Linked DNA regions of Homo sapiens: region 1 is linked to region 2. The links come from fine-mapping of genetic effects on gene expression. Tissue or cell type: whole blood. Region 2 holds a variant in brackets; the other region holds the start of a gene. All regions are shown on one strand. Distances are between the middles of the regions.

What was found. PIP is the estimated chance that this variant, and not a neighbour inherited with it, causes the effect.
Region 1: USP31 starts here. The variant in region 2 is fine-mapped to the expression of USP31 in whole blood (GTEx, PIP above 0.99).

The regions. Positions count from the first base shown.
Region 1 is chr16:23,148,478-23,150,977 of GRCh38, reverse strand. It overlaps USP31 (ubiquitin specific peptidase 31), which reads left to right and starts at 1,526. Exons shown (of 16, transcript NM_020718.4): 1 at 1,526-2,340. The coding sequence starts at 1,708. RefSeq lists an enhancer at 1,126-1,345 and silencers at 1,526-1,625, 1,776-1,825, 1,926-2,025, 2,156-2,385.
Region 2 is chr16:23,186,816-23,189,315 of GRCh38, reverse strand. The region is part of intron 2 of SCNN1G (sodium channel epithelial 1 subunit gamma); the gene reads right to left. Among named protein-coding and RNA genes, the nearest start is that of SCNN1G, 5.3 kb to the right of the region's middle. The variant C/T (reference allele first, on the strand shown) is at 1,393.

The sequences.
Region 1 (2,500 bases), 38 kb after region 2:
GCATTCACATTTTAGTGTGAATAATCAGATGGCTTTCTTCCTGGTGTCCAGATAAGAATTTTGACTAAGAGGAGAGTGGAGCCGATTAGGGACAGTGCAGAGCACCCTGGAGATGTCATCATAGAGCCCTACTTACATTGGGGAGGGAGGTCAAAGGTAAAAACCATTTACTTTGAAACGTGGTGTAAGGTGGCCTTCATGTTTTAAAAAGGAGGAAGGGCTCTCCCTTCTCTGATTTCTCTCTTCTGCCTCAGGACTCAGACTAGCCCTTTTAGCAGAGGGGAGCCTATAGAGAGGAGGTCATATACTAGTTGATTTTGGACTAAAGGCATCCCAAAGATGTACTATTTTTTGCTCCCTGCACTATTTTTTTTTTAATGGAACCAACGTTTAAAAATAGGATTTCTGCCTTCTCTTAAAACATCAGATGATCTGGTAACGCTGAGCTCCTGTTCTCACATGGGAACAACTGGCTGGAGCTGAGTGGCAGCCACCTCTTTAGAAAGATGTTAATTTGAAGTCTGCTATAGTCCCCATCATTCCTTATATTTCCCCCAACACTGAGACCCAAGTCACTTGAAAGTCAATATGATGATTCAAACACCAGGATTCTTCACTCATTTGTGGGTTTGTGACCTGTGATATTTGTGGATTCGTGACCTTTGGTTTAGAGGTCAAGTATAGGGGTTGTAAATAAAACTTGGGTTTGAATCAGATAAGAACTGTACCAATCTCAAAGACGGTGAATTAAAGATTAAAGAAAATATTGCATGCTTGGCATAATGTGTGGAACACAACAGCTATTGTAAACACCCAGTAGGAATGTAAGCTGCAAGAGGGCAGGTAGAAACCGTGCTAATTTAATCCGCTGGGGATATGACATTTGATTCTAATTTAATAGGTTTAATTCTTTGCAATATCCCCAGTAACTGCTGAATGAATGAGTGAGTGAATGAATGAATGGAATGATGAATGATGGGAGAGCCCGGAGGAGTTTTAAAGGCTGGAATGAAAAGGAAAGTAGTTATGATAACAGCGTTTCGCTGGGACTCCAAGGTGCAGCCAGGAAGAAAAGCCCGCTGGGACGTGCCAGGGTCTGTGACTGCGCTCCGCTGGCACCCAGAGGGTAGGTATCTGCAACGTCCCTTGGGAGCCAGACAGGGCTGACTTGCCCAGGACCTGTCAGGGCCATGTCCACCAGCTCTTGCACGGTCTGGTAACTGACAGCATCCTGATTCCTGCACGTTCCCGCCTCTGCCATCTGACCAGCAAAGACAGAGACCCACCCCGGGGATCCACCATCCAACGGGAGCCCAGCCTTTTCCTCCAAGCCGGGACGGCGCCCACACTAGACATGGCCTCCCTCGGGCTTCACGCAGCAGGACCGCGCCCGCAGCCTCCAGGCATCGCGTCCGGCTGGAGAGGCAGCTACCGTCCCACAGTGAACATGGCGGCCGAGGCGGCTTCAGCGCCGGGCGGGCGGCGCCGGGAGGCACGTCACGTGAGCGGCTCAGCTGGGCGGACCGCGCGCGCGCCCGCTGGCCCCGCCGGCCGCCGCTCGCTCGCTGGCTCGGCTGCGCTTTGAGGTGTGTGGGGCGTCGAGCCCCCGGGCCCGGTGAGGCGCGGCGCTGCGGGATGCGGCGGCGGCCGTGGCGGGGCCGCGGGCCGGGCGGGCGGGCGCGGTGATGAGTGTCTGCGGCCGCCGCCATGTCCAAGGTAACGGCGCCTGGGTCCGGGCCGCCGGCGGCGGCGAGCGGGAAGGAGAAGCGCTCCTTCAGCAAGCGGCTGTTTCGGAGCGGCCGCGCTGGCGGCGGCGGCGCGGGGGGCCCCGGGGCGTCCGGGCCGGCCGCGCCTTCCTCGCCCTCCTCGCCCTCCTCTGCACGCTCGGTGGGCAGCTTCATGAGCCGCGTTCTCAAGACGCTGTCCACGCTCTCGCACCTTAGCTCTGAGGGCGCCGCCCCAGACCGCGGCGGCCTCCGCAGCTGCTTCCCGCCCGGGCCGGCCGCCGCGCCCACGCCGCCGCCGTGCCCGCCGCCGCCCGCCTCTCCCGCGCCGCCCGCTTGCGCCGCCGAGCCGGTGCCCGGCGTGGCGGGGCTCCGCAACCACGGCAACACGTGCTTCATGAACGCCACGCTGCAGTGCCTCAGCAACACCGAGCTCTTCGCCGAGTACCTGGCGCTGGGCCAGTACCGGGCGGGGCGGCCCGAGCCCTCGCCTGACCCGGAGCAGCCTGCGGGCCGCGGCGCGCAGGGCCAGGGCGAGGTCACTGAGCAGCTGGCGCACCTGGTGCGGGCCCTCTGGACCCTGGAGTACACCCCGCAGCACAGCCGCGACTTCAAGGTGAGCCCGCGCGCCGCCGCGCCCCCACTGCACCCCGAGCCCCTGGGGCACCTGCCCGCCCAGGTCTTCCTTCCCTCGGTTCCTCTTGGCCCGGCAGGCTTCTGCATTGGTTGCTCCGAGTGGTCTGGGCAGTCGACCAGTGATTTTAAGGAGATTCATT
Region 2 (2,500 bases):
TGGTGCTCCTCCAGGCTGTTTTCCATCAACACGTGTCAGCCTCATGCCCACCTTTCCCAACTCCTTGGCAGAGGAGACCACGCCTTTCATGACTTGACCCATCCAAAGTGACCCCTGGCTCTGGCAAATGGGGAAAGGCTCATGGGTGACCCATGTGTGACTTCCTGTGGCTTCACCTCTGCCACCACTGTCTGCTTGCCCTCAGGGTGTGTTGACAAGTTTGTCCCAACCAGCATTTCTGTAGTGGTGACTGTCAGGTGCCTCCCATAAACCAGCCACAGTGAGGACAAGTAAATAACTGCCAACCAGGAGTCTACCTAATGGGCAGGCTCCTTCTCCACCCAGCTCACTCTGCCTCTGCCCACTGATTGTCCTCAAATCTGTGCTGGGGGGAAGGAGGGTATAACTGTTACCTCGATGACCCCCAAGAACACAAAATAGTTATAAAGGAGTTGCCTGCGTGAAGCACAATATACCATCTTTTAATTTTCACAAATCAAATGGTTCCAGCCTCCTCTTAACTCTCTCCTCTCTCCTTTCTCCCACTTGCTCTAGGCATAGGCAGCAGAGCATAGCAATTGAGAATAGAAACCCCTGGGTTTAGCCAAATTACCTGAGTTTAGGTTCCCCATCCTGGTACTGGCTACCTGACCTTGGACAAATGTCTTAGCCTCTCTGTGTTTTAGCATTCTCCTTTGTAAAACGGGATTTGCTGGGAAGGTTCAATGAGTTTATTAAATATAATAAACACACACAGACATACATATAGATAATTAAATGCCCTCTATTATTGTTATTATTTTAGAGACAGGGTCTCACTCTGTTGCCCAGGCTGGAGTGCAGTGGTGCAATCATGGTTCCCTGCAGCCTAGAACTCCTGGGCTCAAGCAATCCTCCCACTTCAGCCTCCTAAGTTGCTGGGACTATGAATGTGTGCCATCACACCTGGCTAATTTAAAATAAAATATTTTTAGAGAGGGGGCCTTGCTCTGTTGCCCAGGCTGGTCTCGAATTCCTGGCCTCAAGCAATCCTCATGCCTTGGCTTCTGAAAGTGCTGAGATTTCAGGCATGAGCCACTGTGCCTCTATTGTTAGTTATATTAGTGTTATTATATTTATTAAGACTTTATTCCTCCACTACAGTATAAGCTCCACTAGGGCAAATACTGTGTTTGGGTTGTTCAGTTCTCTATCCCAGAACCTAGTACAGTGCATGACAGTTTATAGATGCTGAGTAAATTATTATGGAACAAATAATGGATGGAAAGAAGGAAGGAGGACCAGAGAGAGAGAGAGAAGGAGGGAGGGAGAAAGAAAGAAGAGGAAGACATGGAGGGCGGAGAGAGAGTCTTAGACTTGATCTTGATTTTGAGCTTTGCACCAACTCACTGA[C/T]GATTCTGGACAAGTTAGTTTCGTTTGATAATCTTTCTCCCCTGTTCTTCTTCCCTTCTCCCCACCCCTGCTCTGACAAAGTCTGCCTGATTCTGACCTGCCTCACGGACCAGTTTTCCATAATCCTGAGAAGGACTCTGATGACCCATTTAGAACAGGTCCTGCCGAGGATGATAGGGCAGTCCCAAGGGCTGATCACACCCAGGGCCCGATGAGCTCAATTAATGGGGCTGGGTTTATTCAGATGAGGGTTTGGGGCAGCTGAGGTGCTTACAGAAGTCACCTGGGTGTCACTTCTGAGTCAGCCTTGAGCTCACTTATGCTGCAGGCAGAGTGAACATGTGAGCTCGGAGAGCCAGGGGTGCAGATGCAGATGGGGGTTGGCTAATTTGGGCTTGATATGGGGAGTGTGCAGAGGGGGTTAGTTCGTTCCAGGCCTCTTCTAAGTGAAACAAATCCTGCAGCTTCCTCTTTCTGCTCTCTCTGGGCTAGCCCATCCTCAGAAGTCATTGATGGAGTGGGTGTGGTGGTTCACTCCTGTAATCTCAGCACTTTGAGAGACCAAAGTGGCAGCACCACTTGAGCTCAGGAGTTTGAGACCAGCCTGAGTAACATAGCGAGACCCCATCTCTTAAAAAATAAAAAATTTTAGCTGGATGTGGTGGCATGTGCCTATAGTCCCAGCTACTCAGGAGGCTGCAGTAGGAGAATTGCTTGAGCCCAGGAGGTCGGGGCTGCAGGGAGCTATGATTGCACCACTGCACTCCAGCTTGGGTGACAGAGTGAGACCCTGCCTCCAAAAAAAAAAAAAAAAAAAGAAAAGGCCAGGTACTGTGGCTCACACCTGTAATCCAAGCACTTTGGGAGGCCAAGGCGGGTGGATCACCTGAGGTCAGGAGTTCAAGACCAGCCTGGCCAAGCATGGTGAAATCCTGTCTCTACTAAAAACACAAAAAAATTAGCCTGGCGCTGTGGTACACCCCTGTAGTCCCAGCTACTCGGGAGGATTGTTAGAACCTGGGAGGTGGAGGTTGCAGTGAGCCGAGATCGCACCACTGCATCCCAGCCTGGGCAACAAGAGCGAAACTCCATCTCAAAAAAGGAAAAA